2 separate regions of the Homo sapiens genome follow, and region 1 is linked to region 2. The links come from fine-mapping of genetic effects on gene expression. A gene starts in region 2. The other region holds a variant in brackets. All regions are shown on one strand. Distances are from middle to middle.

Evidence for each region. PIP is the estimated chance that this variant, and not a neighbour inherited with it, causes the effect. A credible set is the group of variants that fine-mapping cannot tell apart.
Region 1: its variant is the best candidate, but not a certain one, in a credible set for the expression of SNX10-AS1 in prefrontal cortex (BrainSeq, PIP 0.71).

The regions. Positions count from the first base shown.
Region 1 is chr7:26,455,342-26,460,719 of GRCh38, reverse strand. All of the region lies in intron 1 of LINC02981 (long intergenic non-protein coding RNA 2981), which reads right to left. Among named protein-coding and RNA genes, the nearest start is that of SNX10-AS1, 59 kb to the right of the region's middle. The variant G/A (reference allele first, on the strand shown) is at 2,862.
Region 2 is chr7:26,396,333-26,401,710 of GRCh38, reverse strand. SNX10-AS1 (SNX10 antisense RNA 1) reads left to right here and starts at 2,293. Exons shown (of 2, transcript NR_136272.1): 1 at 2,293-2,370. LINC02981 (long intergenic non-protein coding RNA 2981) reads right to left here and starts at 3,142. Exons shown (of 5, transcript NR_148502.1): 1 at 2,690-3,142. RefSeq lists silencers at 2,606-2,715, 2,806-3,265 and enhancers at 3,736-3,975, 3,050-4,006.

The DNA.
Region 1 (5,378 bases), 59 kb before region 2:
GTAACTAGGGAGAAGCTAGAATATCTCTTTTCTGTGCAGTTAGGCTGGGAACAGAAACCAGAGATGTCTCTAACAGTGACTGATGCAAAGATGATGATCTCACTAGAGAAGCAGGGCCTTCCCTCTCTTGCTTCTCCTTGGCTTCGTATGCCAGTAATTGCCCAGTGTCCATGAAAAATTGCAGCTAAATCCCAGGCTGAGAGCTCAAAATGGACTTTGGACATTTCTCTTCCTGGCAGACTTCTGTGGAAAGAGTTGAAGGATTGCTGGCAGTGAGAATGTCTCCATGAAAAGTCACCTGGTGGAGGTCAGGGGCGAGGGCCCAGGGTGAATTTTACCTTAAACAGGACAGATCTGCAGATAAACAAAGGGAACCATGGTTTTGAGCCTGGTTAGTTTCTTAATCCTTTGTAAGCACATACATCATTCCCTGCAAATTCTTCCTCCAAACTGGAATTCACCGGAAGAAATCAACTTATAGAGGCAGCTGTTTCTTCTCTTGCATGTCTTCTGTTAAACAAAATAAACTGTACAACTAGCAAGATTGATGGTAATAATATTAAGTCCAAATAATCCAAATCGATTCCATCAAGACCTGGAAAGGTAAGCTGGGGATAACGTTACAGTAAAGGCATGGTTCTTGGGAGACGGTAAAAGTGTTACATTCTGTGCTACCTTTAACCTACAGAACATGTTCTTAGGAGTCAGGCCAACCTGCAATTAAACCCCAGCTTTGCTGTCAGGTCATTCTGAGTCAGGTTGGGCCATTTTCCAAATCATAAAGTAGGCTAAGGTTTGATGGAAGAATTCAATCAGAGAGCATGTATCAAGAGCCTGGGCGAGTGCTTGGCACAAAATGGGTGCCGAATAAGTGGTGGTTTCCAGCTCTCTTTCTTCCACTCTAAAACAAGCACAGCCTAGCCTGTGCATTTAACAAGTAGCTCCTGCCACAAACCCATGTCCTTAGATGATACAGCAAATCCATACCCTTGATGAATGGCTTTACAATGGGCTACCCTTGTGCTGTATATCCTAAATGGACAGAGAAGCATCTAAGAAATCTAAAAGAAGCAAACTACCTGTCTCCATAACTCCAGAGCAAATCACAGTACCAAGGGCTGATTTGATGGGAAATCCCCCATCCATCACCACAAGGAGCAAAGCTGTGCCTGGGTCAGCCCAATAAGTAGCCATCCAGGAAATCCAGGTGTGCAGGGGGTTGGGAGAGGAACCAAGAAGAAGAAGCTAGAGGTCATTGGCTTTTCCCTGACCTCCGGCTACATTTCAGGGCCACCTTTAGGATGCCCCAACCTCTCTTCACACCACAGAAAGAGGACTTTGAAGATGTAGGTGGTGTCCCAGCTCCAACAAGGCAGGTTGTTCAGGGACTAACCAAGAGAGGGAGGTTGGAAAGTACTGGGGGTGTCCCATTGCCTCCCTTGTCCTTTCTTGACAGCCCCAATACAATTATAGATCCCCTGAGACCAAATTGTTTCCTTTTTAAGCTGTCCTTACATTTGGAACTCCCATAAAGAAAGCAATAAAATGAGAGGTACCCTCACACTGCCATGTGCAGGTGTTCCAAGTCGCAGCGAGTCATTTGAATCCCCACTTAGGCCAGCAGATTCATTCCATCTGTGCTTACAATTCAGTTGAGATCAGAATTTTCTGATGCACAGCTTTCCTGAAATGTCTGTTTCTCCATTGTTTTTCACATTCCAAAGGAGAAAAATCATCATTTCCATCCACATTATTAGAAACAAAACTAGCCCCTTTTCTCCCCAGCCCATATTATTGCCTCATTACAAATATATTTTGTGCATCAACCTTAAAGGTTATGTTTCCCTCCTGCTTCCTCCTTTCATTATACAAGATTTCCAGTTATCCAGTATTTTGTTCTCATTAGAACACTGCTTGTCACATGTTTTCACCAGAGACATTCATCACCAAGGTCAAAGGGTGAATATCGTGATCTATTATGCTTAGAGGAATCTAATGAAAAGCCACATAATTATCCAATTTAAAGAGAAGCAAGTAAAAAAGAAGGGGAGCACTTGCTATAATTTAAATTGTTTTGTTTCCCTGAAGCAAAATTCAGCACCTGATTGACAGGACCTAATGATAATTCTTATTGATACGGTGATGTTAATTGTGGAGAGATATTTAATAAGTCCCATATTCTGGAGGTAAATGCGTGCTCTTAACCTGCACCTGAACCTGATTTTTGATGCAGCGTGGGGATGAGGTACAGATACAGATAAGTGAGCACAAGTGGATTTTCAGTCTTGTGTGGCAGAATGGAAATTGGAATCTTCAGAATCTATTAGGAGAACAATTCCACAGTTGCTCACACTTTTATAAATTATACTGTATATTACAGAAAGACACAAAGTCAGGGGAGTTGCAAGAAGAGGATATTGTCATGACTTTACAGAGAAGTTTTTAGGGTAGCATTTGGTGACGGTGGTGGTGGTGGTGTTTTCAACTAAAGACACACATCAAAGAACGTGATCTGTATTCATTTTTAAACAAAATGCACTAATGAAATCCACATCCTGAATCATCTCTCTGCCACCCCCAGGTAAAGCTGACCTTGCAGAAAATGAGGCCAACTCTGAAACATAGGTAGATTCTTGGAAGAAAATGACTTCTTACACCGTGAACAAAACCATTTGAGAAGGCCTTCATGGGTCTAAATTACAAAAGGAAGTGATCCGTGCGGGCTGAAAACATCAACTAGATCTGCATCCCATCATGAGATGGCTGGGAGGCAGGAAACAGCTGCTGGAGCTGTGGACAGGCCTGAGGTCATCTCTGACTTTCTGAGAGGCCATTTCAAAGCCACTATCTGGACAAGAAAC[G/A]ATGGGTGACCAGATCCAGCTCTGTGTGATTCAACTCTGTACACCAGTGAGCCATCCCTCACAGAGAAGCTGTGTGTTCCTGGTGTTTTTTATTACGTGCTAAATACCAGAACTTTAAAACTGCATCTGTGATTGTCATGAGACAATGCCATCATTTTGGAACTAATACTCACACCGCCATCTTTGTGCAAATAATACAAGGTTAAAAAAGAAATAAAGAAAGAAAGAAAAACAAAAGAAAAGAAAAGAAAAGAGAGCTGCTCTAAAGACAAATAGACTTGAAAAAAATGAGTCAACTTGGAAAAAAGAAGTAACCAAAGTGGCTTAAATCTGAGGGACGGCAAATTGTTCAAATTAATTTCTTTCAACTCCAAGTTAACTCAGTCTTCCATTTTTACTTATGAGAAAAGAATATTACATGGTGAGTATTCTAATATAACCTGCTTAATGTAATTATTCATGCCAAAGCATAATTAACTTCAAAATAATCAAGCCACAGATAGTTATAACCTGAGTCACAGTGGGTCACTGTTACTAGAAGAGAAAGCTCTCAATCTACAAATAGGAACATGAGAGTAAAAATGTAATCATTAAAGGGTGTCAAGGAAAACAAGAGTAATTTTTAATGAAGAAAATGTTTAAAATGTCCTAAACATTTCAAGATAAGATTCTTCTTGAGCTTAGTTAGCAGCTGGGGTCTGGCACATCGGGGGTGATCAGTAATGAGCAAAGACCAGACATTCTTTTTTGCTTCCTGAACTTGCTTCATTTTTTTTTTGCTTTTAATACACACACACATACATATATACATATCCTTGGAATAGTTCAGATATAAATTATATTGACTTTGAGCCATGTACTTACCTTCACTGAAAAAAAAAGTCAAGTTAATTGGAGACGACCAAATTGATCGCGGGTTATGATACCAATAGCAGCTGAAATTGCTGCTGTGATTTTCAACTGCCTAAGCCAAAGCATTACATCATGCACAGGAGATTATAATTTCTCTGAAGAACACTTCTGGTATCTCACCACCCGAAAAGTGATATGCCAGCAAATTGATGAGAGTTCAGAGAAAAGCAATAAAAATAATTAAGGATTGACTGATGGAAAAAGATGAAAAGAATTGAATGTGGGCTGCCTGACCCAAAAATGACCTGGGTGGTTATAGGAACATTACCCAGGTATCTGGAGGGTCAAGATTCCTGTCTGTCCACACAGCAAAACAATGCAATAATAAACAAAACAAAGCTGTTGGATAATTCACTCCATGATTTGCTCTGGAAGCTGGTGCTGCTCTGGGCCAAAAACCAGGGTCATGTCTACTCTGAGCAGTCACCAGCAGTCACTCTATGCTTCTGTGTGTCTCTTAGTGTGGGCTCAAGGCTGACATGGAGGCTGGGATGCCACTGATGTTCCCCTATTTCCACTCTGGTGCTGTCTAACCATACACTCATCCTATGCCAGACACCTGGGTCCTTGAAATGGCCTGCAACCCAAAAGAGAAAAGGTAAAGACTGGTTAACATCATGGTTGAGAGTCTGGGTTCAACTCTCAGCTCCAATACTTTCCAGCTGAGTGACCTTGGGAAAGTTACTCAACCTCTCTGAGATTCTGTTTCCTCACTTGTAAAATGGAGAGAGGAATAGTGCCTTCCTTCTAGGATTGTTGAATGAAATTTTTCACATAAAGCACTTCTCAGTGCCTGGTGTGTAGTAAGTGCTCAACAAATGGTCGCTACTGTTCTTATTTATTATAATTAGCAGCAAGGGCCAGGAACACCTGAAGGGGCAACAAAGATCTGACTCTCCTAGTAGGGGTTCCAGGCCCTAAGACATTCACCATGACTTGCCTGGCCAGTGCCTGAACAGATGTTCACTAATGTTATCGATGTGCCTCTCCACCCCCCACCACCCAAACATGCCAGTTTCCTTTATATCTATTATAGGCTGGGGGACCAAATGTCCTAATTTGCCCAGGACAGTCTTTATGCCTGTTGACCTAGGGCAATTACTAATAGGACCCTCTTTCTGTCAAATCAGTTATGATGATGAATGATATGGTCAGCCTAGTTATGAATCTCTCAACATCTTTTTTTCTAAACCTTTTCTATCCTGCATCATCTCTTGACAATGAGTTTCTTAAGTATATTGAAGTTACTGTGAGAAAGTATTTTTACCAGTCCTGACCTTACCGAGGTCAACAGTTTTGCCATCTCAGGAGCTGGTGAATGGATCCACGGTCACCCTAGTCCCATATTGTCCACACTTCACTGTGCTCAGACTAAAGAGCCTAGCCAGTTAGTCTGTCCCACACTGATAAGCCTTCTGCATTCCCACTTTCATTTTAGTTGATTTGCTCTGGAAAATGTCCAGTGCCACTGGATCTTCTTTAAGAAGCATAACTGAAACTTTACTTTAGGTTTAAGTGAATGAAATAGTCCCTCTTTTTATTCCAGGGTTTGGAGTCAGGGGATCCAAGTTTGAGTGCTAGCGCCATCCTTTATACCTGCGTGAC
Region 2 (5,378 bases):
ACGGTGTTTATAAAGCCTACACTAGTATACACAATGTCCTAGACCCTCACATTTACTCGCCACTCACTCCACTCACCCGAGCAACTTCTAGACCTGCAAACTCCATTCATGGTAAGTGCCCTATACAGTTGTATTTTTTCTTTTTTTACCATTTATACTGTATTTTTGCTGTACCTTTTCTACATTTAGATACATAAGTACTCACCATTGTGTTACAGTTGCCTACAGTGTTGTTTTTTTTTTTTTGAGATGGAGTCTTGCTGTGTTGCCCAGGCTGGAGTGCAGTGGCATGATCTCTGCTCACTGCAAACTTTACCTCCCAGATTCAAGTGATTCTCCTGCTTCAGCCTCCTGAGTAGCTGGAACTACACGTGTATGCCATCAAGCCCAGCTAATTTTGGGGTTTTTAGTAAAAACAGGGTTTCACCATGTTAGCCAGGCTGGTCTTGAAGGCCAGCCTTGGCCTCCCAAAGTGCAGGGATTTACAGGCGTGAGCCACAGTGCCTGGCCAATTGCCTTCAGTATTCTGTTACAGTACCATGCTGTACAGGTTTGTAGCCTAGGAGCAATAGGCTATACCATATAGCCTAGGTGGGTAGTAGGCTACACCATCTAGGTTTGTATAAGTACATTCTCTGATATTCGTGCAATGATGAAATCGCCTAACGATGCATTTCTCAGAACATATTCCCATCATTAAGAGATGCATGACTGTATATATTTGCATGTGTTTTTAAGTTACTGGAAGAATATACAAAAATATTAATAGTGCTTGTAACAGTGAATGGTATAGAAAGAAGGAAGGAAGGAGTGGGAGGATTCTGTTTTTTATTTCATACACTTCTACAGTGTTTGAATTATTTTTATTGAATATGTTACTTTCATTATTTTTAAAAACATCTTCTTCCCACCTTCTCATCTTGTCTATTTCAGCCTAGCCAACTAGGTTTTCTCAGGACTGAGGTTATTTATTCCATATTAACTCTGTCTCAAGCTCATATGCATCTCCCACGATTATTTTTCCCAAAACACTTTAGGTTTAAGAATGACCTTTCCTAGGTCTTTAGCTTATGATTAACCAAATGAAACCATCACTAGATGGACTCCCTAATTCAGGTGTTGAATTACAAAAATGAATTTTCAGGGGGAAAAAAATGCTAACTCAATTATGTTAGTTAAAATATCAGTAAAATTAGCAATGCCACAGTGTCATGAAGCAGAAGGTCAAAGACCCACACACCCTTTACTGGGCGCCATGGTGGGACTTAACTGGGGCAGTTCCGGTTCTGCCATTAGGACCATGAGCACTCCAATCTCAGTGAAATTGTATAAGACACTGCCATTATCCCCGGATCATTGCCACGATAGACCCAAACAACTCCAGTCTATCGTGTCAATGTGTATTTGGGGAGTCTTTAACACACGGATCATTGGCGAGCTGCACCATAAAAGCCCTGTAGGAGCCGTGGCCGTGTGTGGAATCAATGCACACTCGGGGACTTCCCCACGCCCGGATCATTTGCAGCGCATCGTGTCAATGCATACTCCGGGAGCCCCTACTCCGAAGCCTGTGAGTGCTGAGGAACAGTGTACACCAAAAATACTTATGGAATAGTTGTTACAGTGCGTACACAGTATTCACTTTTCTAAATGGCATGTCAGCAAGTTTAGTGTGCCACAAATAACTCCTAAAAGGCACAAAACACTCCTAGAGGCCCACCTTCACACATGAATGGTTGGTCCATGGAATTGTGGCATGGCTGTGGGGGAGTGTAAGTTTTTCTTTACAGTGAACAAAGGGAAAAGAAAGAGACATCTGCTATTCAGTGTTGTCAGGGTTTTCAGCATAATCCCAAACACCTCCTAATTATTTTCCTGGGCATTTGATCCCTAAGATACAAGGACCTTCCCTCCATCCCTGCCCTGTTCCAAAGTACCTGTAGAGCAAGCTGAGAGGGCAGAGTTAGAGGATGGGTGGGGTTGGGTCTTAAGTGCGATCCCACAGAGATATAATGTGAACCACATGTGTAAATTTAAATGTTCTTTGTGGCCACATTTTTAAAAAAAGATTTAATTCATGATACTTTATTTCACCCCATATACCCAAAATATTATCATTTCAATATGCAATCAATGTTTTTAAATGATGAATGAGCCAGTTCACATTCTTTTTTCCATACAGTCTTCTTTACAATGGGGTGTGTATTTCCCACTTGGAGAACATCCTGGTCTGGCCTGGCCACACTGCAAGCCCTCGGCAGCCTCTTGTGGTCAGTGGCTGCCCCAGTGAGCAGCACAGCTACAGAGGTTCAGGAAAACCAACCCCAGGAGCGTGGATGTTCACTGCCTTCCTTCAACCACTCCAGGCAGGTGCGTCCACCTTTCCTCCTCATTGCCTCACCAGGGCTGCAACTGCCGAACAGCCTTTTCTCGGCAGCCTGACAGAATAGCTGTGTGTTGGGTTTCTGCAATCATAAAAAATGACCACAAATATGCATTCGGAAAGAGGAACGAAAACTCCTCTAGGCCCAAACGGTAATGGCAGTACTAGGTCATCTTTCTTGGAGACGGAGGTGAAGGGAGGGCAAGGGGCCCCTGGGGAAGGAAAGAGGAGGCGGGCGTGGCGTCGAGCGCGAGGGCGGCGGCCTAGCTGCACCCGCGAACTTCCCCACACCTGCGACCAGCTCACCTCGCGGCGTGAGGGATCCCTGGCAGTCGGACGCGGCAGGGTGGCTGGTTTCTGGGGCTGAGTCTGGCCCGACACAAAAGAGGAGGGAAAGGAGAAGGAGACGGAAACAAAGGCGCGGGGGAGGACGAGGAGGCGCGCGCGGTCGCGGGGCAAAGCGGCGATGCGGTGCGGGCGCGCGCAGCCTGGGGCTCCCGGGACCAGCGGGCGGGAGCAGGCGGAGCGGGCAGGGCGATTTGAATATCAGGCTCTGCCACACTCGGGGCGCCGCTGACAACTTCATTACCTCCGCATATAAAAATGACTGCCGGGGAATGCAAATAGCTCGCCTGTCTCAGCCGCCTGCCCTCGTTCCGCCGCCGGCTGCAGGCGGAGGCCCCGGGAGCCGCGGCGGCCGGAGGCGCAGACGCGCCCTGTCCAACATAATGAACTGCCCGGCCGCGGCTCCGCCCACCCCCCAGCCGCCGAGCCGGGCCGGGAGGGGGAGCCGGCCCGGTGCTGGAGGAGGAAGGGGTGGGCGGCCGGGCGCGGCTCAGAGGCCGCGCGTTGCTAGTCAGTGTCGGCGCAGGCCCTGCCTCTTGACTCTGTCATCCAATTACTGCCATGAAAATACCAGGAAACTAGAGTGCTCAGTGGGTTCCACTCGTGACCGCGAACTCTGACGGAAAAGCGGGACCCCCGGCCTCCGTCCCGTGCGCCCTGGTGGTTAAATTGGACGCCAGCATCCCGGCGCCCCGCTCTCGTCTCGCCTGCAAGCGGGCGGCGGGTGTGCTGCGCCCTGCTCCCCAGGCCTGCGGCCACCGGGACAAGGCTGCGTCGCTGTGCAGGACCCGCCTCCCGAACCCTGGGCCTTGCTGAGCTCCCCGTGTGGCCACCGAGGCAAGCCGCGTGCGGGAGGGAACGCAGGCTTCACGGCGCCTCTCTTCTTGCCCTGGCTTGCTCCCTGGCAAGAAGTCACCTCCCGCCTTCTGATAGCTCCCCCTGTCACATTTGGGCCCCTTGTGAACTTCTCGAGGAGAGGAGCTAGGTCACTTTTATTAATAGCAACAACGACAGTAGTAAACATATGCTGAGGACTATTCTACGCAAGGTACTATGCCAACTGCTTTACCTACATGTTTATCACAGCGATCTTATTGCACTCCTGGAAACCCAGGCTTAGCAAAGCCTTGAAAGGTTCCCAGCATAACCCAGCTAAGGTGGGAGGGAGCACAGGTGAGAACCCAGGCCCCTCTACACTCTCAATCACTCTGCAGTATTTTCCGGGTCCTTCTTACAGCTCACACAACTGTCCAGCACTCCTTTGTCCCCCGAACGCATCACCCCCAGCCATCTTAGGCCGGGCCAGCCCCCCGCCCCCACCCTCACCCCCTCCCTCACCCCCTCCCTCACCCCCTCCCTCACCCCCTCCCTCTCCTTGGCCCAGAAGTAAATCCTAAGTAGTCTAAATCCGTTATGACCAACCCCTTCCCTTGCCCAGGCACTGGCTTAGAAAAGAGCATGTGACCAGTCCTGGCCAAGGCCAAGCCAGGGGACATCTGTTGGGGTTTTCTGGGAAATGCTTCCTTGCCCTAAAAAAAGACACCTCTAGCGATTCCAGTTTCTTCTGTTGTAGAATGTATATCCACCACCTGGCAACCACGGAGGAGCCAGGGAACAAAGTTAGTCTTTGCAGAGATTTACAGGATTAAGTGAGCTAACTCCAGGGTTAAAGTTTAGGAGAATCATGTTTTAGTCCTATCTCTACCTGCGATGGAGTCATGCTGCCTCGTGTTTATTCAGGGACATATTTAAAGTTAACTCCTTTTTGAAACGAGACAAGATAAAAAGATGTAAACAAAGGAAAACTCCAGAAATTTGGTCTTGTCTCCATTAAAGAGTGTCTGTTTCTAGGCACTTCAGTGGAACCTCTCACTTCCAGCTTCTCTTCCTGGGCACTCACCTCTAACTCATTCAGCTTTTTTCCCTCAAAGTAGCTCTTTGCCTACACAGGCAAGGCATCTCTTCCCTCCAGGAACATCAGAACCCCCCTTCTAACCCTCCTGCACCCACACACCCAGGCGTCTGAGCTTGACTGCCTTTGAAATGTTTACTGGCCTTCAAGTAGTCTCTTTGAAGAATTTGCATCTAATTTTGAACTTAGGGAAAATCGGGCATAACCAGTCACTTACTAGTTTCCTTGGCAACTACTTTAAAACAGAATCTAAATTGGAATGAAAATGGATTTTTATGGTTTCACTAAAATCATACACACTTTTCATGAAAATATACCAAAAAAACTATAAAAAATATATACATACTATATGCTTTATTCGTTTATCTGGAATCAATACACAGTAACTAACTCAAATATCTCTGTTCCCCACTGCTGAGGAAAGGCACTCCACACTCCCTTAGCAAGACATTTAAGACCCTCCACAATCTGCACCTAACCCAGCTCCAGCCTTATTTGTCTACTACAGTACATCCCCAAATCATGCTATTGCATTTCCTCTCCCATGACATTCTCTAGAATGCCCTTGAACTTCATGTCCAACTGTTCAAATATCACCGATCTTTCCAAGTCCAGATTAAATATCACCTCTTCCAAGAAGCTTTTCCCATTCCTCACATATAATGACACAAATTGAGTTACTTAGTGTTTATTTTCAGCAATATTTAGCATATTTTATTTACTGATACCCAGTATTGT